Linked DNA regions of Homo sapiens. The protein of the gene in region 7 purifies or fractionates together with the protein of the main gene of each other region. This does not show direct contact. Each region holds a gene or a part of one and is shown on either strand. Other genes may lie near its edges.

Evidence for each region.
Region 1: the proteins of RPAP1 (region 7) and SYTL2 purify together in Homo sapiens (affinity purification with mass spectrometry, with the first as the bait; one large-scale study listed by BioGRID). This does not show direct contact.
Region 2: the proteins of RPAP1 (region 7) and PHF8 purify together in Homo sapiens (affinity purification with mass spectrometry, with the first as the bait; one large-scale study listed by BioGRID). This does not show direct contact.
Region 3: the proteins of RPAP1 (region 7) and SLFN11 purify together in Homo sapiens (affinity purification with mass spectrometry, with the first as the bait; one large-scale study listed by BioGRID). This does not show direct contact.
Region 4: the proteins of RPAP1 (region 7) and IPO9 purify together in Homo sapiens (affinity purification with mass spectrometry, with the first as the bait; one large-scale study listed by BioGRID). This does not show direct contact.
Region 5: the proteins of RPAP1 (region 7) and CENPC purify together in Homo sapiens (affinity purification with mass spectrometry, with the first as the bait; one large-scale study listed by BioGRID). This does not show direct contact.
Region 6: the proteins of RPAP1 (region 7) and ARHGAP23 purify together in Homo sapiens (affinity purification with mass spectrometry, with the first as the bait; one large-scale study listed by BioGRID). This does not show direct contact.

The regions. Positions count from the first base shown.
Region 1 is NC_000011.10:85,727,642-85,731,141, reverse strand, and holds part of SYTL2 (synaptotagmin-like protein 2), read left to right. Parts: intron 1-3,174; coding exon 3,175-3,500.
Region 2 is NC_000023.11:53,995,974-53,999,473, reverse strand, and holds part of PHF8 (histone lysine demethylase PHF8), read left to right. Parts: intron 1-3,500. UniProt on the Homo sapiens protein: Histone lysine demethylase with selectivity for the di- and monomethyl states that plays a key role cell cycle progression, rDNA transcription and brain development.
Region 3 is NC_000017.11:35,370,822-35,375,108, reverse strand, and holds the start of SLFN11 (schlafen family member 11), read left to right. Parts: upstream 1-1,487; 5' UTR 1,488-1,635; intron 1,636-1,881; exon of another isoform or gene 1,882-2,012; intron 2,013-4,287. UniProt on the Homo sapiens protein: Inhibitor of DNA replication that promotes cell death in response to DNA damage. Acts as a guardian of the genome by killing cells with defective replication.
Region 4 is NC_000001.11:201,867,157-201,870,656, forward strand, and holds part of IPO9 (importin-9), read left to right. Parts: intron 1-1,491; coding exon 1,492-1,640; intron 1,641-2,433; coding exon 2,434-2,562; intron 2,563-3,426; coding exon 3,427-3,500. UniProt on the Homo sapiens protein: Nuclear transport receptor that mediates nuclear import of proteins, such as histones, proteasome and actin. Serves as receptor for nuclear localization signals (NLS) in cargo substrates.
Region 5 is NC_000004.12:67,542,704-67,546,635, reverse strand, and holds the start of CENPC (centromere protein C), read left to right. Parts: upstream 1-1,132; 5' UTR 1,133-1,280; coding exon 1,281-1,298; intron 1,299-2,440; coding exon 2,441-2,487; intron 2,488-3,932. UniProt on the Homo sapiens protein: Component of the CENPA-NAC (nucleosome-associated) complex, a complex that plays a central role in assembly of kinetochore proteins, mitotic progression and chromosome segregation.
Region 6 is NC_000017.11:38,508,464-38,510,674, forward strand, and holds part of ARHGAP23 (rho GTPase-activating protein 23), read left to right. Parts: intron 1-1,480; coding exon 1,481-2,211.
Region 7 is NC_000015.10:41,530,758-41,534,257, reverse strand, and holds part of RPAP1 (RNA polymerase II-associated protein 1), read left to right. Parts: intron 1-3,055; coding exon 3,056-3,235; intron 3,236-3,500. UniProt on the Homo sapiens protein: Forms an interface between the RNA polymerase II enzyme and chaperone/scaffolding protein, suggesting that it is required to connect RNA polymerase II to regulators of protein complex formation.

The DNA.
Region 1 (3,500 bases), on a different chromosome or scaffold from region 7:
GATACTGATTCTTCCTATCCATGAGCATGGAATGTTTTTCCATTTGTTTGTGTCCTCTCTTATTTCCTTGAGCAGTGGTTTGTAGTTCTCCTTGAAGAGATCCTTCACATCCCTTGTAAACTGGATTCCTAGGTATTTTGTTCTCTTTGTAGCAATTGTGAATGGGAGTTCACTCATGATTTGGCTCTTTATTATTGGTGTATAGGAATGCTTGTGATTTTTGCACATTGATTTTGTATCCTGAGACTTTGCTGAAGTTGCTTATCAGCTTAAGGAGATTTTGGGCTGAGACGATGAGGTTTTCTAAATATACAATCATGTCATCTGCAAAAAGAGACAATTTGACCTCCTCTCTTCCTATTTGAATACCATTTTTTTTTTTCTCTTGCCTGATTGTCCTAGCCAGAACTTCCAATACTATGTTGAATAGGAGTGGTGAGAGAGGGCATCCTTGTCTTGTGCCAGTTTTCAAAGAGAATGCTTCCAGCTTTTGCCCATTCAGTATGATATTGGCTGTGGGTTTGTTATAAATAGCTTTTATTATTTTGAGATACGTTCCATCAATACCTAGTTTATTGAGGGTTTTTAGCAAGAAGGGCTGTTGAATTTTTTCGAAGGCCTTTTCTGCATCTATTGAGATAATCATGTGGTTTTTGTCATTGGTTCTGTTTACGTGATGGATTACGTTTATTGATTTGCATATGTTGCACCAGCCTTTCATCCCAGGGATGAAGCTGACTTGATCATAGTCGATAAGCTTTTTGATGTGCTGCTGGATTCTGTTTGCCAGTATTTTATTGAGAATGTTGGTATCAATGTTCATCAGGGATATTGGTCTGAAATTTTCTTTTCTTGTGTTGTCTCTGCCAGGGTTTGGTATCAGGTTGATGTTGGCCCCACAAAATGAGTTAGGGAGGAGTCCCTCTTTTTCTGTTGTTTGGGATAGTTTCAGAACGAATGGTACCAGCTCCTCTTTGTACCTCCGGTAGAATTCGGCTGTGAATCCATCTGGTCCTGGACTTTTTTTGGTTGCTAGGCTATTAATTGCTGCCTCCATTTCTGAACTTGTTATTGGTCTATTCAGGGATTCAACGTCTTCCTGGTTTAGTCTTGGGAGGGTGTGTGTGTCCAGGAATTTATCCATTTCTTCTAGATTTTCTAGTTTGTTTGCATAGAAGTGTTTATAGTATTCTCTGATGGTGGTTTGTATTTCTGTGGGATCAGTGGTGATATCCCCTTTATCATTTTTTATTGTGTCTATTTGATTCTTCTGTCTTTTCTTATTAGTCTGGCTAATGGTCTATCTATTTTATTGATCTTTTCAAAAAACCTGAACCTGCTCCTGGATTCATTGATTTTTTGAAGGGTTTTTTGTGTCACTATCTCCTTCAGTTCTGCTCTGATTTTAGTTATTTCTTGTCTTCTGCTAGCTTTTGAATTTGTTTGCTCTTGCTTTTCCAGTTTTTCTAATTGTGATGTTAGGGTGTTGATTTTAGATCTTTCCCACTTTCTCCTGTGGGCATTTAGTGCTATAAATTTCCCTCTAAACACTGGTTTAGCTGTGTCCCAGAGATTCTGGAATGCTGTGTCTTTATTCTCATTGGTTTCAAAGAACTTATTTATTTCTGCCTTTATTTCGTTATTTACCCAGTAGTCACTCAGGAGCAAGTTGTTCAGTTTCCATATAGTTGTGCAGTTTTGAGTGAGTTTCTTAATCCTGAGTTCTAATTTGATTGCACTGTGGTCTGAGAGACCGTTTGTTATTATTTCTATTCTTTTGCATTTGCTGAGGAGTGTTTTACTTCCAATTATGTGGTCAATTTTAGAATAAGTGCGATGTGGTGCTGAGAAGAACGTGTATTCTGTTGATTTGGGGTGGAGAGTTCTGTAGATGTCTTTTAGGTCCACTTGGTCCAGAGCTTAGTTCAAATCCTGAATATCCTTGTTAATTTTCTGTATCGTTGATCTGTGTAATATTGACAGTGGGGTGTTAAAGTCTCCCACTATTACTGTGTGGGAGTCTAAGTCTCTTTGTAGGTTTCTAAGAACTTGCTTTATGAATCTGGGTGCTCCTGTATTGGGTGCATATATATTTAGGATAGCTAGCTCTTCTTGTTGCATTGATCCCTTTACCATTATGTAATGCCCTTCTTTGTCTTTTTGATCTTTGTTGGATTGAAAACACGGTTCTTAAACCCCAGTATGCAGAACAATCACTAGAATAGCTGTTAGTAAAGATTACTGTGCCCAATCTTCAGAAATTCTTCTCATTCAATACATCAATAGTAAGGCCCAGGAATGGAAATATCCTCATTTTCCCATTTAAATATTGTGGATAAAATTCCTTGTTTAGTCTTATTTGAAAGTTATTTTTCTAACTCCTGAAATCACTTAAGTCTGTGCTTCTCAAACCTGGGTTTAAGCCCCCTCTAGGGTTTATGATATGTGCCAGGGGATGGGTGAAGTCATAAAATCGGCATGGCATATCTTCCTGGAGTGTCAGTTTTATACAAAGATTTAAAAGTAAGAGAAAATTAACATTTAAAATGTAACATGGAGCTGGGTGTGGTGGCTCATGACTGTAATCCCAGCACTTTCGGAGGCTGAGGTGAGTGGATCATGAGGTCAGGAGTTCGAGACCAGCCTGGCCAATATGGTGAAACCCCGTCTCTACTAAAAATACAAAAATTAGCTGAGCGTGGTGGTGCATGGCTGTAATCCCAGCTATTTGGGAGGCTGAAGCAGAAGAATCGCTTGAACCTGGGAGGCGGAGGTTGCAGTGAGCCGAGATCCCGCCACTGCACTCTGGCCTAGGCAACAGAGCGAGACTCCATCTCAAAAAAAATAATAAAATAAAATGTAACATGAAACAGAATGCAAAATTCACATGTATTTTTAAAATAAAGAAGGAACTACAAAGAAATTTTTCGGTTAGGTCTATACCATGTACTTCCAGGTCTCTACATTTCCTTTCCTTTACTGTCATAGGGCACCTTTGGTAGAATACCTTAATTAGGACAACTTACATTTTAACCCCTGAAAAATGCTGGTATAAACAGCTATTGGTATAGAAAGTGCAAATACAAAGTGCTTTTATAAAGATGATGATGTGAATGATTAACAGTTCTTTAAGCATGCTCTTTTCTTATTTAGAAAAGTATTTCTATGTTGCAGATGAACTGTCTCATTGTGTTGAGCCTGAGCCATCTCAGGTGCCAGGTGGCAGTTCTAGAGACCGTCAGCAAGGTAAGCCCCCTCCTCTCCCGGCTCTAAAAGCTAAGACATCTTCACGTTCTGGTCCATATGCCACTGAGATAAAGAAGTCAACTGATGATTCCATATTTAAAGTTCTAGACTGGTTTAACCGAAGTTCTTATTCAGATGACAATAAGTCATTCCTCCAACATCCCCGAGGAATAGAGTCCAAAGAAAAAACAGACTCAAAATCACAGGTTGCTGTTGACTTGGTGACAGATGACACTACTTTAAGAGAAAATGGC
Region 2 (3,500 bases), on a different chromosome or scaffold from region 7:
CCCAATGCAGTCAAAAATCCACATATAACTTTTGCCTCCCTAAAACCTTAACTGCTAACAGCCTACTGTTGACCAGAAGCCTTACCAGTAATATAGTCAACACATATTTTGTATATGTTATTTGTGTTGTATACTGTATTATTACAATAAAGTAAGCTGAAAACATGTGTTTACTGTTCATAAAGTGGAAATGAATCCTCATAAAGGGCTTCATCCTTGTCTTCACATGGAGTAGGCTGAGGAGGAAGAAAAAGGAGAGGGGTTGGTCTTGCTGTCCCGGGTGGCCCAGGCAGAAGAAAATCTGCATATAAACGGACCCATACATTTCAAACCCATGTTGTTCAAGGGTCAACTGTATATCCAGTTTTGTGTTTGAATCTATTGGTTTGTCTTAATTTTCCTGTGTCACCAAAGTTCTCCAGAAACATTTAATAGTTATGTGATATTCTTTTGCAGGAATGTACCATCCTTGCCTAACTACTTGCTTATTGCTGCTTCCTTTTTATTTCTTTGAGGGGATAGTTTTAAAGAATCAGACAGTAAATATCAGTCTTTGTCCCTCATTTCTTGATTGTTTCTTCAGGATGGATTCCTGGAAGAACAATTACTGAATCAAAGTATATGAAAAAATGTAAGGCTCTTGATGCATACTGCCAAAGTGGGTTTTAGAAATGTACAAATGTCCATTTATCCAACTGAACATTAATCAACTATAAAAAAAAATAAGAAAGCTCTGTATGTACTGATTTGGAAAGATCTCCAAAATTTGTCAAGGTGCACAACCGTGTGTATAGTGTGCCACTTTATATGTAAAAAGGGGAGAAATAAGAATTATGTTAGTATATACTTGCCTGGATATATGATCTGGGATGTAGAAACTAATGAAAATGGTTACCTGTGGGAGTGGGATGATGGGATTGATGGCAGGGGCAGGGTGGGATTGATGGCAGGGACAGGGTAGGAATGAAGCTTTTCAATATCATTTTATTTTATTTTATTTTATTTTATTTATTTATTTATGAGACAGAACCTCACTCTGTCGCCCAGGCTGGAGTGCAGTGGCACGATCTCAGCTCACTGCAGCCTCTGCCTCCCAGGTTCAAGCGATTCTCGTGCCTCAGCCTCCTGAGTAGCTGGGATTACAGGCATGTGCCACCACGCCTGGCTAATTTTTGTATTTTTAATAGAGACGGGGTTTCACCATGTTGGCCAGGCTGGTCTCGAACTCCTGACCTCAAGTGATCCATCCACCTCAGCCTCCCAAAGTGCTGGGATTACAGGCATGAGCCACCACACCTGGCCTGCCTTTCTTTTCTAATGTAAGCCTTTAGCTGTTAATTTCCTTCTCAGCACCAATATTTGATTTTTGACCTATGTGAACGAATTAACTTTTCAGAATACTGAATTTAAAAAACACACCAAGAAATCAAGAGAAGAAGAAATGTCAACATGTAATCTTAGGCTTCAGATACTCCCTTTCCTGTGTATACTGTGACCAAAGGTCACTGCACTGCAGGCTTAACTTGTACAATCTCCTTAGTTCCTGTTGCCAACCTTCCCCTCGGATATTCTTGGATTTCATATTTTGAGCCTTCCCTTGCTCCCTGGGCTCACCTACACCTGGACCTTAGCCTGTGATTCTGTTTCTCCACACCTCTCAGGTGTGGCTACCTTGGGTTTCATCTCTGACACCTCCCATGGAGTGAACTTTAGAGTGACTGTGTCCCAAAAACACCAAAAGGGAGGTGGGTGTGGCCCAAGCACTCATGACTCAGGATGGACCCAGGGACCAAGGGATGGCCCCAAACAGAGTGATCAGTGGGAGCTGGAGTAGAGTAGAACACAGTTCTGAGAAGCCCATGCTCATGGAAGGAGTCTTTTGTGAAGTGCAGATGATTTGTAGGGGAGGAACCTGCTCCCTCACCTTTCCAGAGACCCTGGTCTGGGAAGGAGGAAGCCATAAGATTATTTAGCTGGGTCACATGGATTCTCAGCTCCCCGCCTAGCCACCAAAATAAATTCCACCAGATAGATGAAAAGAGTTAAAGGGAAAAAAGAGAATTAAACCATGAGAAACAAGGAAATGCTGAGGAATTTTTTATCAGCCCTCTGGATACAGAAATGAAGTGAAAAGTGGTAGAAAAAAAATCACAAAGGAAGAAAACCTTGAGATCTACATAAAAATGTAAATCTCGGTACTCAAAAAGAGGGCAAACGAAAGAGAGACAACTAACAGGGATCGCTCTGGGTTGCTGTTGAGCTAGCTGTGGGCCAGCAGCTGCTCAGCACAGAGTTCTTTCCTCACAAGTGGAGAGGCTGGTTTGTCCCCACTGATCTCCCTGAGGTCCTTGACTTTTTTGAGGGGTGTGGCCCAAACCCACAACTTAGTTCCTAATACCTTTTGATACTCTTTTATTAGATAGATGTTTTACAAATATTTTCTCTCAGTCTGTGCCTTACAAAGTAGCAGAGGTGCTGAAATAGAGGTTTTTCAAAAAAGTTTTGCTTTTTAAGTCCAGTTGATCAACTTTTTTCTTTTCTGGTCCATGCTTATGTCCTATCTAAGAAATCTTTGCCTAACTGAAGGCCACAAAGAACTCCTCCTCTGTCTAAAGCAGGGGTTTCCAGCCGGGGTGCAGTGGCTCACGCCCGTAATCCCAGCACTTTGGAAGGCCGAGGCGGGTGGATCACCTGAGGTCAGGAGTTTGAGACCAGCCTGGCCAACATGGCGAAACCCCATCTGCACTAAAATTACAAAAATTAGCCGGGCGTGGTGGTACGTGCTTGTAATCCCAGCTACTGGGGAGGCTGAGGCATGAGAATTGCTTGAACCCAGGAGGTGAAGGTTTCAGTGAGCCGAGACCACCACACCACTGAACTCCAGCCTGGGTGGCAGAGTAAGACTCTGTCTCAAGAAAATAGTAAGAAGTAAATAAAATATAGCAAGGGTTTCCAACCTTTTGGCTTCCCTGGGCCACCTTGGAAGAAGAATTGTCTTGGGCCATACGTAACGATAGCTGATGAGCTAAAAAAAAAAAAAAAATTACAAAAAATATCATAGGCTGGGTGCAGTGGCTCATGCCTGTAATCCCAGCACTTTGGAGGCCAAGGCGGGTGGATCACCTGAGGTCAGGAGTTCGAGACCAGCCTGGCCAACATGGTGAAACCCCGTATCTACTAAAAACACAAAAAATTAGCTGGGCGTAGTGGCTCACTCTAGTCCCAGCTACTGTGGAGGCTGAGGCAGGAGAATCGCTTGAACCCGGGAGGCGGGGGTTGCAGCAAGCCGAGATGGTACCATTGCACTTCAGCCTGGGCAACAATAGTGAAACTCCATCTCAAAAAAAAAAAAAGTCTCATAATGTTTTAAGAAAGTTTGCTAATTTGTGTTGAGTTGCATTCAAAGCCATCTTGGGCAGTGGGTTGGGCAAGCATGGTCTAAAGGGTGTATAGTTTTAGGTTTTACATTTAGGTCTATGATCCATTTTAAGTTTGTGTTT
Region 3 (4,287 bases), on a different chromosome or scaffold from region 7:
GAACTTCCTTTAATATTTTTTCATAAGAAAGATCGGCTGGTGACAAATTCCCTCAGATTTTCAGATTTCCTTTTTTTTTTTTTTTGTCTGAAGTCATTACTTTGCCTCCATTTAGGTAGGCCTTTTTTGTGGTTGTTATAGGATTCTAGGTTGACAATCTTTTAGCACGTTATAGATGCATGGTTCTGGATTTGGTACAGGTTTGCACAGACTCTCTGTAAACATGTTAAAGAAAAATGGAGAAGCTGCAACATGAGAATACGAAGATTTACTGAAATGAAAAGGTGGTCATTGAAAGAAAGTGGGTTATGAAACAGCATGAACATTATGACCTCATTTTAACAAACGTGCGTAACATACACATAAGTGTAATATGTATGTACATGTATCCATACACACATTGTATATGTATAATGAAATCCGTTTTATTTTCTTACTTTCGCTTTCACTGGAGCCTGTATTAATCAGTGCGGCATTAACCGCTGCTCCCACCCTCGGGCCACTCCGCATCAGTGAGAAGTGGGCCTCCGACAGAGCCGCCCGGGCCTAGGGTTCCGCAAGGCTGGCAGCACGGAGCCCGGCCAAGGGCGAGCGCTCCGCCAAGGATGGGGAGTTGGCCAAAGACAGGAGGATTACAAAATCCAAACACTCGGACAGAATCCTGGCGGGTGCTAAAGACTGCAGCGGGGCAGAAAAGCAGAACGCTGGCAGGTTTTTTTCATATCACTAGCAGCGTGACGGTTACCGGGGTTGACCAAGCACAGCGCACCGGCCGCCGTTAAATCCCACTCTGGCTCGGGGTCTGCGGAGCCTGCCTCAGCCGCAGGCTCCATAAACCCAGCCAGGAACCAAGCGCGGCCCAATCTGCACATCTGCCGCATTTTGGCAAGGGGTCCGGGGTCTGGAACAGAAGCGGAGGCCCAAATTCTTGCCTCGGTCTCCAAGACCCACTTTCTGGGGCGATGGAGAGAGAAGCCCAGCTTGGGATCTGGGCAAGTCGAGCGGGTTGGAAGGGGAAAGCTCTGGCGAGAGCTCAGCTGGACTCTCCGAGGGGTATCTGGAAGGTGGGACCGCAGGCACCGGGAGAGAAGAGGGTGCGAGGAAGGAAACGGCCACCCCGTTGGGAGCGCAGGAGCCGACAGCTGCTTGGGCCTGGGAAGTTCTTCTCTTTCTTCATAATCTTTATTCTTTGTTTTGCTGTAATCCAGATAGATGAATAGATAGATGATAGGGAGGGAGAGATGGATGGAGGGAGCGAGGAGACGGAGGAAGGGTGGGAAGAAGGGGGAGGAAAAAATCCCCAAATTCCCGGAAACTAAGAACTACGTGGCAACAGTCAGAAGGGTGGGAGCTTCTAGGCAATTTAACGCGGCAGAGTTCGCGGGCTTAGCAGACCCGCCCATTGGCTCTTGCATCTCCTGCGTGGGATGTGCGTGGGATGGCGCCAACCCGCTAGTATATAAGGACTCGACCTGGGCGCCTCCAGGGAAACGCTAAGGGGGCTTCGGAAGCGCTGGAGCTTGAGAGGTCAGAGAGGGTCCTTGCCCCCAGCCTGGGACTCCGGAGTTGCGTTTCTACCCGTGCTTCAGGGTCTAGCCCAGCCGAATCCGCGTCGGGCTGTAACTCGAGTGCCAGGTTCGAGAAGGGAGCAGCACCCTTCCCACCCCACCCCAGCCAGGGTGTGGGGTGTGGGGAGGGGCTGGAGGGGTGCGGAGGGGCTGGGGGTGGAGTGGAGTGGGGGTATCTGTGCTTTTCTCCCCTGTCCGGGGGCCCAGCTAGTTTGCTCAGCAGGTTCCCTAAAAAGCGGACTATGGAGGACTGGCGGGCGGGGCGGGGGTGGGTAATGGGGGTAGAAGGCATTAGGGGCGGGGCGGGCCTGACCTGTGCACCTGCTCCCGCTGGAAGTTGGAAGAGCCCCTGGCCAGCCAGCCGCGGTTTCTGCGGGGCGCGGAGCAGGAACCGAAGCCTAGAAGGCCACTGAGTGCACCTTGGTGGCTCCCAGGGCTGCAGATCTCAGGTTTCAGAGTTATTGGTATTTTAAACTTGAGAAACTAGTTCTACAGCTGTCTATGTGACCGACCAACCACTCTAAACTATTTTCCTTAATATAGAAACTAAAAGGCAGAATTAGAATTGCCATTGCCCTGCGGGGAGATTTATAATCTAGAGGGGGGAGAAATGAGAAAAATGTCTCCCTCTGGACAAGATCTGTAGAATACACGTGCTACCCCAGAAGGACAAAGAGCTCTAAGTTTTAGTTTTCCAAGAGGGCACATCTGTCGCAGCCCATTTCCCTTTCTTTTCTTTTTTTTTAAATTAATTTTTAATTTCTGTGGGTACATAGTAGATGTATATGTTTATGGGTTACATGAGATATTTTAAGACAGGCATGTAATGTTTAATAATCACATCACGGTAAATGGGGGTATCCATCGCCTCAAGCATTTATCCTTTGTGTTACCAACAATCCAATTATGCTCATTAGTTTTTATTTTATTTTATTTTATTTTTGTAGGTACATAGTGGATGTGTATATTTATGGGGTACATGAGATGTTTTGATACAGACATGCAATGTGAAATAAGCACACCATGGAGAATGGGGTATTCATCCCCTCAAGCATTTACCCTTTGAGTTGCAAACAATCCAGTTACATTCTTTAAGTTATTTAAAAACGTACAATTGTTATCATTGACTATAATAACTGTTGTGTTATCAAATAGTAGGTCTTATTCATTCTAATTTTTTTGTACCCATTAACTCTCCCCACCTCACCCCTTCCCTCCTACCACCCTTCCTCAGGTAGTCATCCTTCTGCTCTTAGAATACAATTGTTTTGATTTTTAGATGCCACAAATAAGTGAGAACATGTGATGTTTGTCTTTCTCTGCCTGGCTTATTTCATTTAACGTAATGATTTCAAGTTCCATTCGTGTTGTTGCAAGTGATTGGATCTCATTCTTTTCTATGGCTGAATAGTACTCCATTGTGTATATGCACATCATTTTCTTTATCCATTCATCTGCTGATGGACGCTTAGAGTGCTTCCAAATCTTAGCTATTTTAAACAGTGCTGCAGGAAACATAGGAGTGCAGATGTCTCTTGGATATACTGATTTCCTTTCTTTTGGGTCAATACTTAGGAGTAGAATTGCTGAATTGTGTGGTAGCTTTATTTTTAGTTTTCTGAGGAACTTCCAAACTGTTCTCCATAATAGTTGTACTAATTTACATTCCCACCAACACTGTTTGAGGGTTCCCTTTTCTTCACATCCTTGCCAGCGTTTGTTATTGCCCGTCTTTTGGATAAAAGCCATTTTAACTTGGATGAGATGGTATCTCATTGTAGTTTGGATTTGCATTTTTCTGATGATCAGTGATGTTGAGCACCTTTTCACATGCCTATTTGCCATTTGTCTTCTTTTGAGAAATGACTATTCAAATCTTTTGCCCATTTTTCAATAGGATTATTAGATTTTTTTCCCTATAGAGTTGTTGGAGCTCCTGATATGTTCTGGTTATTACTCCCTTGTTGGATGGTTAATTTGCAAATATTTCCTCCCATTTTGTGGGTTGTCTTTTCACTTTGTTGATTGCGTTCTTTGCTGTGCAGAAGCTTTTTAACTTGATGTGATCCCATTTGTCCATTTTTGCTTTAGTTGCCTGTGCTTGTGGGGTATTGCTCAATGAATTTTTGCTCAGATCAATGTCCTGGAGATCTTACCCAATGTTTACTTGTAGTAGTTTCACAGTGTGAAGTCTTAGATTTGAGTCTTTAACCCATTTTCGTTTGATTTTTATATGTGACAAGAGTTAGGAGTCTAGTTTCATTGTTCTGCGGATAGATATCCAGTTTTCCCAGTGCCATTTATTGAAGAGAATGTCTTTTCCCTAGTGTATGTTCTTGGCATCTTTGTGAAAAATGAGTTCACTTTAGGTGTGTGTATTTGTGTCTGGGTTCTCTATTCTGTTCCATTGGTCTATGTGTCTGTTTTTAATGTCAGTATCATGCTATTTTGGTTCCTGTAGCTCTGTAGTATAATTTGAGGTCAGGTAATGTGATTCCTCCAGTTTTGTTCTTTTTGCTTCCGATAACTTTGGCTATTATAGGTCTTTTGTGGTTCTATATAAATTTTAGGATTGTTTTTTCTATTTCTGTGAAGAATGTCATTGATATTTTAATAGAGATTGCAGTGAATCTGTAGATTGCTTTGGGAAGTATGGATATTTTAACAATATTGATTCTTCCAATCCATGAACATGGGTATATTTCCCCTTTCCATATTT
Region 4 (3,500 bases), on a different chromosome or scaffold from region 7:
ATTTCTGTAACACTTACTCTCTAGTAAGGACTTAGGGATAAAGATAATAAATAAAGGGCTAATAAGCAAGAGACATAATTCAGAACTTTGATGATAGAATAGGAAATTGGGCAAATGAAAAGCCTCCTAAAAGAAAAGGGCTAGGACTATAATTTAGAAAAGGAGATACTAAAGAAAGATATATGGAAAAGTTTATAAACAAAGGTATTCACTAGATATTTTTTACAGTAGTAAAAATTTGGAAATTATAAAAAGACATTAGTTAATTATATCCATAAAATGAAATACTGTGCAGCCATTAAAAATCAAGCTTAAAAGGAATATCTGAAACCATGGGAAAGAGCTTACATTATAATAAATGAAAAGATACTTTTCCCAAAAAATCCATAGAATATGATCCCAAGTTTTGATTTTTCTTTTAGAAAAGCATGTATGTATAGATAGGTATGTTTTAAAAAAAAATACATCAAAATGTTGAGTGTTTAGGTAGTGGAATTACAGGTGTTTTCATTATTACTTTTCTGCATTTTAAGTTTTTTTTTTCCTGTAGTGAATGTATTTATTAATACCTTATTACTAGTAAAATATTAAGGATTCTTTTTTTAAAGAGAGAGCTCCAATATTGAAGCTCAGAAAGATGTACAGGATAAGGATTATTTATATAATGTGATATACTGAACATGTTATTTGATAGCTTTTTCACTGAAAAATGTGTACTGAGGAGCTTTCCACATTGTGTTCTTGGATATATCTCATTCTTTTCAGCCATTACTAATGTTCCATAAAATGGGTATATCATAATTTACCCATTCTGTTAATGGACATCTAGGGTATTCCCAATTTTTTTCTATTACAAACAATGCTGCAGTGATCTTTTAAGGTATACTTTAATGCACATTGCCTATATTTTTCCATACTAAATAGAGGAGGATGTTTTGTTCTATAGATAAAGAAGATTGAGCTAAAGTTCCCTTTCTTCATAAGGCTCTGCTTTTTAGGAGTTTTGCCTTTTGCCCCAGAAGTAGCTTTGAGAGTTCTTCATGTCTACCGTGGCTACCCCATAGGAGATATGTATGATTTCTCTCATGCATCAAAGCCAGTGTTTTGGCAATTTTTGCAGCTTTCATGTCTTCTTAAAGTATCAGTTGGGCTTTTTTTTTTTTTTTAAGCATTTGGTTTTATAACGTAGGTTTCACAAGAATAAAGACTTTAAAGATTTTTCTCTAGAAAAAGCCACATTTTGTTTTATGAGTAGCTGTTAATGACTAGTCCCTACTTTAATGAAGCCATACAAAGTGTACCTCTTGCAGATTTAGGATCTCTCCTGTTCTTTCAGGTTATTCATGTGGCCCCACTAGGTCCCGGGTATGTGATAAGTAATCAATGCAGAAGTTGTTAACTTAGGTTAGGGCCAAACAACAGGCATCATTAAGCGAGAAGCAGATGCAGACCATCAGGCAGGGGGATTCCGTGTTGCCTTATCCACTTCAGATCCCGTCGTCGCCTCACTGGCTCAGGACATCTTCAAGGAGCTGTCCCAGATTGAAGCCTGTCAGGGCCCAATGCAAATGAGGCTGATTCCCACTCTGGTCAGCATAATGCAGGCCCCAGCAGACAAGATTCCTGCAGGGCTTTGTGCGGTAAGTGGCCGTGTGTGTGTGTGTGTGTGTGTGAGAGAGATCTACAAGTGCCACCCACAGATGCATCTAGCTGACAAGAACCTAATAGCGTTAGAGATTCATGGGGTGATTTTGCTGAGCTCTTTTGCCTGCAAGGACAGTGGGTGATTCTCTGAAGCTTTAAGAAAATGGCTTGGCTTGGCGCGGTGGCTCATGCCTATAATTGCAGCACTTTGGGAGGCCGAGGTGGGTGGATCACAAGGTCAGGAGTTCGAGACCAGCCTGGCCAATGTGGTGAAACCCTATCTCTACTAAAAATACAAAAATTAGCCGGGCATGGTGGCAGGCATCTGCAGTACCAGCTACTCAAGAGGCTGAGGCAGGAGAATCACTTGAACCCAGGAGGCAGAGGTTGCAGTGAGTGGAGATCGTGCCACTGCACTCCAGCCTGGGTGACAGAGCGAGACTGCCTCAAAAAGAAAGAAAGAAAGAAAATGGCTCTTCTTGTTCCAGAGGTACCCTCAGTGAATTGAACAGAGTGCCACCTTTACACAGTGCCACTAAGTATGTCACCTGGTTATCCAATCCACTACCATGTACTACTGCCCACCCCTATGGCTAATCAATTAGTAAGCTATTATGAGAAGGCTGAGAGTACTACCCATTTAATTATTCCTTTTATTTTGGAAACTTGCCTTTCATTAATAAGCTTTCTCTGGGTTGCTATGTAATACCCATCCAGTAAGGATCTTGGTTGTTGGGCAACCCCCACCCCAGAGGCAATTCTGACTTTTCTTTTTCTTCTCTCTTTCAGACAGCCATTGATATCCTGACAACAGTAGTACGAAATACAAAGCCTCCCCTTTCCCAGCTTCTCATCTGCCAAGCTTTCCCTGCTGTGGCACAGTGTACCCTTCACACAGATGACAATGCCACCATGCAGGTATCTGAGACATGGAGAGTAGAAGAGGGAAGATAGCTCCCCAGCCATGGGCTTATACTATGCTGAGAAATCTGACATGGTTTTATGCTTTTGAAATACGGAATTCTCAACTCCATATTTACTTAGCAGATTCAGGAAGGGTTCAGTCTGCAAAAGCCAAGCATTTCTGGTGCTTTGGAGCATGTTACAGTTTTTAAAAATATGGATACCAAGCACCCTGCCCATCTGTATTGGGTATTGCTACTGTGAAAGAGGTTACAGACATCTAGACTTGGGGCCATAAGAAAGTCTTTCTGCATATTTCTTCTAGTAATAAAGTCAGCAGAGTGATGGGCCTCTAGAGAGGGGAGACATGCCTGAATATTTTTTCTCTTTTTGTTTCTTGGGTGAATTGGTTACCTTTTCAGGTGTCTGCTACTGTGATTGATTAGAAAGGTTATAGGAACTTGCCAGTGAATATTGATCAGCTTGGAAATCCCTAGGCAACTAGTGGTTTGTGTAAGACCTATATAAAGACCTACAGTATCCCCAGTTATTCCAAGATTGTAAGCATATTTTTTTAGTACCAGAGGTAGACCTTTATGATTAAAATTCATTTTGCTTGGCCATTGTCCCTTGTGATTAAAAAAATATATATACACATTTGTGAGATAGCTGATTAGGTAAAGGGGGAATTATGTAATGCACGTCTATGTCTGTAACAGTAAATGTCTTAACTCCAGTGGTATGAGCCCACCACAAACATTATAGACTCACCGCTTTTATGAGGCATAGGCCTCTGGGAACATTTGTTTATACAGACTGAGGGCCTTCTGGCATCTGTCCCTCGATTACTAATCTTGCTTGCCACCCCTGTCTCCCCAGAATGGCGGAGAGTGCTTGCGGGCCTATGTGTCAGTGACCCTGGAACAAGTAGCCCAGTGGCATGATGAGCAGGG
Region 5 (3,932 bases), on a different chromosome or scaffold from region 7:
CAGGAATTATTCAATTACAACATCTCAACCACTTTAATAGTATTCTCATTTTGCAGACAAGAGAATTAAGGAACAGATAACTTAGTTGCCCATAATGGCAGAATTAATGGAATGGAGTGCAATCCAGGCCTAATTTCAGTCAGAGATCATAGTTCCTTTTTTTCTATCAAAAAAATAAATAAAATAAAAAAATTGGCCTTCATAGTTGACAGCATTTGTTAAAGCACTACATGTTTTAAAAATCTATTAGCTCAACTCCTGATTAATGTATTTATTCAATTAGTAAACTATTTTCTGATTAGAATTTTCTTGTAATTTTAAATTAAATAATAAAATAAGATACAGCTTCATAGAATCATACACTGGTCAGGTGAGAAGTCTTCAGAGCGTCTAATTTAGACTTCCATTCTATCACTATGGAAACACCCAGAATGGTGCCGCAATTTTGCCCTCCATAACATAGCTAGTCAATGGCTGGCAGGTTTCAGGATTCTGTATAGAATTCTTTTCAGTGCATCATACTTAAATGATAGATATTTACGTGGGTCATTTGTTGGCAATGCATCATAAAAATATCGCCCACATACTTGAAAAAGAATACAAGCCATCATCACCATTATTATACATAATTATTCAATTATTTTCAGAGATGATGGTTAGATGGGCTGGGCGTGGCTGACGAATCTGCATTAGAAAAATCTCTTCAAAAAAAGATTCTATTAAAAAAAAAGTCGTCTGCAATTTCTACCTCTCATCCTTCCAAGTATTACTTATTATTCCTTAATAGAACTGTTGAGAAGTTTTACATTGGGCACAAGGAGCGGTTCCCAGGATCGTGCCTTCCTAATAAAAGCCCAGTCTCGCGCCTGTCCCGGGCGCGGCGCTGAGGAAGGGAGGTGGGAAGAGCAGAGCGGCTAGAGGTAGGGCGGGCGGGTGGGTCTGCAGGCTGGAGGGCCGTTGGCCTGGAGCATGAAGGGGCGAGCCCACTAACGGCTTGCTTCCTATTGGACGGCGCGGCCCGTTTTGCGCATGTGTCTCCGGGTTCAAACCCAGGCACAGGCCAAGCGTTCTTGTTTGTTGAGGGCGGAGCCAATGGCGGGGGAGTGTTGTTAGCGCGCGCCTTCCGGATCGCAGCTCTCGCGGCAGTCGCCTGAGACTTAAGGTTATTGCTTGGCCGCGGCCTGGTATTCCGGCGATTCGTTTCTTGCTCGGCTTCCTGGAGCTGTGGTCCGTGTGGGCTTCCACCTCAGACAGTTGCGCTGGCTCAGCGGGGCCGGAACATGGCTGCGTCCGGTCTGGTAAGTGCAGGCCCCCCGCTCCAGGCGAGTGGTTGAGCGGCTGGCTGGGGCACGGGCGCCCGAGGCTGGGGAGAAGGAAATGCTAGGCTGAGGCTGTGATCTCTGAGGGATTTCAGTGGGAAAGCCGCAGGAATTTTTGAAATCAAGTGTGATCGTGTGTCGATAACCAGAGTTAATTTACTGTACTTTTATTATTTCTTAAGTTTTCATGTCGTCATTTCGTCTGTGCCTACGTCTTACTCTTGAGAGGTGCTTGTGATTTCTGCTGGGTTTTTTTTTGTTTTTGTTTTTGAGACGGGGTCTTGCTCTGTCCCCCAGGCTGGAGTGCAGTGGCGCGATCTTGGCTTCTGCTTTTTAGTCTAGCTCCAGTTCCTAGGCCTCCAAATAACTTTTCTCCCCATGGTAGAAGTATTGAAACGCCTTAAAAGTGTGTCTTTGCGTCACACTTGGTAGTTGGGAGAAACAGATTATGTAACAAGTACGTCTCGAAATAATTTGACGTTTTCAGTTCTTCTGTCAAAATGGTGGCCTTTTATGCAGTTCTTGAGGCTGATTTATGGAGCATATGTTATTGACAAACTCTTCTGAAAGACAGCTATCAGTTAAAAGGTACAAGCTGTGAATGACTAATGGGGGCGACAACTCATTTTGTTTACATATTTCTGGACTTCTTTGGTGTTCACTATTCTATATTTCATACTTTGGTTATGGTTACTATATAAAAATCCGTATCATTTCTTTTCTAATTTATCTCCCCTTCTAAGAAAATCTTCAGCTTCGATGATCTCCCATTATGTGACGTTATACATATAAACATAAAGAGTTGTATGAAAGAATAATATAATCTATACTTTTTACTATGAGCACATATATTGTTTACATTATATATAATCAGAAGAAAGCAATAAAGCCATTCTCACTGTGGGGAGAGAAGCGGAATAAAGCTTACCAGATGCCTGCAGTTCAGTTTTTAAATGCCTGTCATAACCTATGTTATGTCATAACATAACCTCAAAATTGTTTTGAGCCCTTAGGAGATGTTTGGTGTATAGCATGCCCATACTGGATGAAGTTACTTTGAAAATAAATTTTACTCGACTCTATCTTAAAGAAACCAAATTGATGATTTACTTTTCTTTCAGGATCATCTCAAAAATGGCTACAGAAGAAGATTTTGTCGACCTTCCAGGTGATTTACGTACTTAAGCTTTTAAGATTATTTTTATTCTCATCGTTAATAGATTTTTAAATGAAGAAAGGAAAAACTATCACCTCTGACTAATATAATGATTTCTGTGCCCACTGATTAAGGGTAGTCATCTTATACTAACGGGAATGTTAATGCAAGCAGTGCAATGACTTTGTGGCTGTGAAAAAAGAAATTCACCTGATAAAATAGTGGAACCAGGAAGAGGGAGTCTCAGTTCTGACTAAGTGACTGCCATGGGAAAAGCATTTTGTAGAATGAATCAAATGGTAAAATTAGAAAGATGTAGCTTATTCAGTGGGGCAAAAAGAAAAATAGTACATGCTGTCGTGCATTTGTTGAGTGCTTGTTTGGGTTGTTTTGGTTCTTCTTTTAGTTGTAAAACCTGTAAAAAGTAAATTTTCTAGTTAAATATTTACTAGTAATAGGATGAAAAGCATGTTTTTAAAAGTGAAGATGTTATTATGAATAACGTCATGTTTATTGAGCTGTGATTTTAGTAGGTCCAATGGGGCACAGAAGTATGTTCTTTTGTTTACAAGAAGCTTAGATTTCTGTTGGGAAAATGTATATGTACATTTGTGAAACAATTTAATGGACAAAAATTATTACTTGCAATACTGAAGTAATGACTTGTGTATCATAGAGAGTAGGCCTATATATAATTAGGCATTAACTTGCAGTATAGACAGCCATGTGAGAAATTAGGGATTTGTGTGTTGTTGATATTAAGAAAAGCTTTAAAGTTGTAGTGTAACTTTGGTGGACCTTGAACAGGTATTTAAAGACTAAGATAAAGTATATTCCAGACATAGAAAGTAACTTAACGAAGGAACCAAAGTAGGAATACATATATTTGTCAGTAGCAGAGAGACCTGATTTAAGAAGGTTGAATATGTTGGGTAGAAGTGGAAAACAAGACCATATGAGTTGGATTGAGCCATAAAATGGATATGTTAGGCTTTAGGCATCTATTATAGGCTTGAATAAGCTCTCCTAAATCTTCTGTGGAATAAGGGCTATCTGATATAAACACACACACACATTTAAAAAAGCAAAGATGTTTGATGTTTACAAAGTAGCTTAAGGAGGGTGTTGTAGTAATCTACACATGGTGGAGGTGCTTTTATGCTAAGGTAATAATGACAAAGGGGAAGAAAAGACGAATTTGATAAATTTTGAAAAAGCTGTTGCCTAATGTGACCTGCGTTCTAATAGTGACTCTGCATTATCACCTTGGCAAATCTGATCTTTTTGGATCTCATCCTTGAAACAGGTAATAGCAGGAGTGTATTTATAGCTGTGCAATATGTGCACCTGTAGGTGGTATTTTGGGGTGATGTCAAGGCCAGAATTTATAATAGTCACCTATATATATTCTGGTAGAAAACCGGCCACTAATACTACTTAGGTTTACAAACTGAGGT
Region 6 (2,211 bases), on a different chromosome or scaffold from region 7:
CATGTGCTGAACTGGGGAACTTGTGCTTTATCCTGGTGGGTGCTGGGGCATGCAAGCTTCTGAGCAAAGCTGGGTGAGGATCAGATTCCTGCTTCAGAATGGTGGCTCTGGAGGAGAGACCCGGGCTGGGGCAAGGGTGGAGGCAGGAAACCCTATTAGGAGGGGCAGGAGGGCCCAGAGAGGGCAGAATGAGGGCCTGCCGGAGGAGGAGGAGGAGTTGGCTTTGGGAGCCATTTCAAAAGAATCCAGGACTTGGCTGTGGGTGGAGGAGAGAGGGAGGAGTCACAAGACCGCCCTAAGGTGAGCAGTGTGAATGGAGGCAGTTTGGGGCAGGGGTAGGTAGGATGCTGTGGTTCCGGATAGGTGAGTTTTAAGAGCCTACAGACACCCAGGTAGAAATGGATTCTCAATGGGAAGAAGAGTCCCGGAGCTCAAGTGAGTGTGGTGTTGGACAGGGAGGCCTGGATAGCAGCGCTGCTTGGGAATGGTATTTTCTAGGGAACACGAACAGAGAAGGCAAAGGGGCCAAAAACAGTCCTGGGAACACTGAGTCTCAGTGGGGAAGGCAGGGGAAGGCAGGGGCGGGGCGGGGGGCGGGCAAGAAGAACCTCCCAAGAGGCAGAGGAGAGGCCAGAAGGGCGGATGAAAACCAGCTTCCAGAAGGCCATGGGCGGCAGCATGGGCCCTCCTGGGAAAGTGTGAAAGGCCAAGGCCCCAAAACACCACAGGGTGTAGCAGTGAGGGCTGGTTCAGGTGAGAACAGCGGCATGAAGTTGCCCAACTTGGGGTTGGAAATCACAGTTTGGGAGCGGCTCCAATCCAAACCATGACACCATACGGGATCTTTCAGCCACTTGCAGGGGCGGAGCTGGCGGCGGGATTGACCTGGGATTGGGGATTGGCGGGGTGGGGAGCTGGTGGGGTCCGGCGGAAAGGGGAGGACGTGAACTTGGGCGGGTTGCCCTGGAGAGGCCTGTAGATGCTGGGCAGGTGGGAAGGCAGGTTTCCAGGTGGCAGCGGGTGGAGAGGAGGTGGGGGACTTGTGGTCAGAGAGCGCCCCTGGCGGGGATTTGGGGATCAGCATGCAGGAAGCTCTGGTGATGACACCCCAGGGGCGTGTGTGAAACGGATTCAGGCTGCCAAGCGTTATTCACTGTGGAGAGATTGTCATCACCAGAGCCGTGTCTAAAGGATTTAGCCAGGGCTGGATACGGAAAACAGAATGGAAGGGGGCTTTGGGAGACCAGCCCACCTCACAAGAAAGAGCTGAGAGCCTAGATTTGGGCCAGCGGGGGTAGTCTCTGGACGGAGGGCGGCACGGGGCTGGAGGAGGAGCGTTTTATGATGCGGCCGTGGGTGCTGGCCTTGGCTGGGGCTTGTGGCGACTGGGTGCCGTGACGTGGGGGTGGACCGGGTAGAGCGGGGTCGGCAGGGGGCCGAGTCCGGGCGCCCCCCGCATCCTGACCTGTCTCCCACACAGGGTTCGTGGGCCCCCAAGAAGGAGCCGTACGCCCGGGAGATGCTGGCGATCTCCTTCATCTCGGCCGTCAACCGCAAGCGCAAGAAGCGGCGGGAGGCGCGGGGGCTGGGCAGCAGCACCGACGACGACTCGGAGCAGGAGGCGCACAAGCCTGGGGCGGGGGCCACAGCGCCGGGGACTCAGGAGCGGCCGCAGGGGCCGCTGCCTGGCGCCGTCGCCCCCGAGGCCCCCGGACGCCTCAGTCCCCCGGCGGCGCCGGAGGAGCGGCCGGCCGCGGACACGCGCTCCATTGTGTCGGGCTACTCCACCCTGTCCACCATGGACCGCAGCGTGTGCTCGGGCGCTAGCGGTCGGCGGGCAGGGGCGGGGGATGAGGCGGACGACGAGCGTAGCGAGCTGAGCCACGTGGAGACGGACACTGAGGGCGCGGCGGGCGCGGGGCCTGGGGGGCGCCTGACACGCCGGCCGTCCTTCAGCTCGCACCACCTCATGCCCTGCGACACTCTGGCGCGCCGCCGCCTGGCCCGGGGCCGCCCAGACGGCGAGGGCGCGGGCCGGGGCGGTCCCCGCGCCCCGGAGCCGCCCGGCTCGGCGTCGTCCAGCAGCCAGGAGTCGCTGCGGCCCCCGGCGGCGGCGCTGGCCTCCCGGCCCTCGCGCATGGAGGCGCTGCGTCTAAGGCTCCGCGGCACGGCGGACGACATGCTCGCCGTGCGCCTGCGGCGGCCGCTGTC
Region 7 (3,500 bases):
TTAGTAGAGGTAGGGTTTCTCCATGTTGGTCAGGCTGGTCTCGAACTCCCAACCTCAGGTGATCTGCCCTCCTCGGCCTCCCAAAGTGCTAGGATTACAAGCATGAGCCACCATGCCCGGCCTTTTTTTTTTTTTGAGATGGAGTTTCGGTCTTGTTGCCCAGGTTAGAGTGCAATGGCGCGACGTAGGCTCACTGCAACCTCCGCCTCCTGGGTTCAAATGATTCTCCTGCCTCAGCCTCCTGAGTATCTGGGATTACAGGTGCCCACCACCATACCCAACTAATTTTTGTATTTTTAGTAGAGACGGAGTTTCACCATGTTGGCCAGGCTGGTGTCGAACTCCTGACCTCAGGTGATCCACTGGCCTTGGCCTCCCAAAGTGCTGGAGCCACTGCGCCTAGGTTTTTTTTTTTTTTTAAGACGGATTTTTCCTCTTGTTGCCCAGGCTGGAGTGCAATGGCGCAATCTCTGCTCACTGCAACCTCTGCCTCCCAGGTTCAAGCAATTCTCCTGTCTCAGCCTCCAAAGTAGCTGGGATTACAGGCGCCTGCCACCATGCCTGGCTAATTTTTTTATTTTTTGTATTTTTAGTAGAGACGGGGTTTCCCTGTATTGGCCAGGCTGGTTTCGAACTCTTGACCTCAGGTGGATCAAAGTGCCTCCCAAAGTGCTGGGATTACAGGTGTGAGCCACCGTGCCTGGCCCCCAGCGAATTTCTTTTAAGGTTTTTGTAGAGATGAGGTCTCACTATATTGCACAGGTTGGTTTTTGTTTTTTGTTTTTTGTTTTCAGAGTCTCCCTCTGTCACCCAGGCTGGAGTGGAATGGCACGATCTCGGCTCACTGCAACCTCTGCCTCCCAGGTTCAAGTGATTCTTGTGCCTCAGCCTTTTCAGCAGCTGGAATTAGAGGTGTGTACCACCATGCTTGGCTAATTTTTTTTATTTTCAGTAGAGATGGGGTCTCACCATGTTGGCCAGGCTAGTTTCGAACTCCTGGCATCAAGTGATCCACCGACCTCAGCCTCCCAAAGTGCTGGGATTACAGGCATGAGCCACCGTGCCTGACCTTTAATGCATTATTCAGTTCTGTCCTTAAACTTGTCCTGTGAGGTAGGTGGTATTAACCCTATTTTACTTATGAAAGAAACTGAGGCCTAAAATTTAAAAGAAATTCTACCCAGGTCACACACCTTATAAGAAGCACAGGACACAGGATTTAAACCCAGATCTACCTGGTCTCATATGCCCTGCTTTTTTTTTTTTTTTTTTTTTTTTTGAGACGGAGTCTCGCTCTGTTGTCCTGGGTGGAGTACAGTGACACGATCTCAGCTCACTGCAACCTGTACCTCCCTAGTTCAAGCGATTTTCCTGCCTCAGCCTCCTGAGTAGCTGGGATTACAGATGTGCACCACCACACCCAGCTAATTTTTTTGTATTTTTAGTAGAGATGGGTTTCACCATGTTGGCCAGGCTGGTCTTGAACTCCTGACCTCCAGCGACCCATCTGCCTCGGCCTGCTGAAGTGCTGCGATTTTTTTTTTGAGATGGTCACCGTGCCCAGCCGAGGCCCTACTTTTTAACCACTGTGCTATGTATAACTGTACTACCCTGGTATAGTATACACTATGCTTTATTATAGCTATACTCTAGTATATGTATAGTCTCTTCTACTCTGTGATACTGTTCTATGCTATGCCTCACCCCTAGTGTCTGTTCACCAAAATGCCAGGCACTCAGTCAATCTTGTTACCCACTGTATACTAGCACCTCTATAGAGTATAATACGTGTTAGGGCTCAGTATGGTGCCTTGCCCTGTAATTCCAGCACTTTGGGAGGTTGAGGTGAGAGGATTGCTTGAGGCCAAGAGTTTACGACCAGCTTGAGGAACATCATGAGACCCCATCTCTACAAAAAATAAAGATATAAAAAATTACAGCCAGGTGTGGAGGCTCACGCCTGTAATCCCAGCACTTTGGGAGGCTGAGGTGGGCGGATCACAAGATCAAGACATTGAGACCATCCTGGCCAACACGGTGAAACCCTGTCTCTACTAAAAATACAAAAATTAGCTGGGCGTGGTGGCACACGCCTGTAGTCCCAGCTACTCGGGAGGCTGAGGCAAGAAAATCACTTGAACCCGGGAGGCGGACCTTGCAGTGAGCCGAGATCGTGCCATGGCACTCCAGCCTGGGCGACAGAGTGAGACTCTGTCTCAAAAAAAAAAAAAAAAATTAGCCAGATATGGTGGTGCATGCCGGTAGTCCCAGTTACTTGGGAGGCTGAGGCGGGAGGATTGCTTGAGCCCAGGAGTTTGAGGCTGTGGTGAGCTACGATTGTGCCACTGCACTCCAGCATGGGTAACAGAGCAAGACCCTATCTCTTTAAAAATATATATTTACAGCCTGAGCAACATGGTAAAACCCCGTCTCTAGTAAAAATACAAAAATTAGCCAGGCGTGGTGGCAGGCACTTTTAATCCCAGCTACTCAGGAGGCTGAGGCAGGAGAATCCCTTGAACCTGGGAGATGGAGGTTGCAGTAAGTTGAGATTGCACCACTGCACTCCAGCCCGGGCGACACAGCGAGATTCCGTCTCAAAAAAAAAAAAAAAAAAAAAAAAAAAAAAATATATATATATATATATATATATATATGTGTGTGTGCATAAATAAATTAGCTAAGAGAAGGAAATTCTTTCTGTAAATGCCTTCTTTTTGGCCCTAGTCAACATTAACTTATTCATTCTACAGCCACTTACATTGGAACTGTGACCTGAAACCAAAGGGATAGGCATAGGAACCTGGGCCAGTGGACTGTGAGGGATAGAGGGAAAGGTGGGCAGGTGGGCAGGTGGGCCTAGTGACCCCACAGGTGTGAGAAGGCTGGGTCATTGATGGGCCACAGGAGCACCCAGAAGGCTCAGGCCCAGGCTCGGAAGCAGCTTGTCCTGTCCTTGGCACCCACAGACAGGCGATATTCAGCGGGTTCCAGGTCTGTAGGAGGCCAGGGAGGATCTACCCTCACTCACTCTCCCCTCTACCTTCGCCTCTAGACCCCAGCTTGGTTGCTTTCTTGAGATCTCACAGCCACACGCAAGAGCAAACAGGAGAGACAGCCTCTGAGGAGCAGAGGCCAGGAGGACCCTCTGCTAATGTCACCAAGGAGGAACCCCTCATGTCAGCTTTTGCCAGTGAGCCCAGGAAGAGAGACAAGCTGGAGCCAGAAGCCCCAGGTTTGCAGGAGGCGGGGGTCATATTTTGGTGGATAAAAGTAGGGGAAATTGTCCCTTTTCCTAGGCCTGGCAAATGAGAGAAGAGAGAAGCTTCTGTGCTTTTGGACATCTAACATTAATCCTCATTATTGGCTTCAAGTCAGTCTTCATTGCTGATGCATGTCTTCTTCCTGCACATGCTTCCTGTTTTCTTGTCCTGTTACTGCCCCTTCTCCGCCTTCCCTTTTAAGAGGCAGCAATGCGTGATGGCTGAATCCCACTCCAC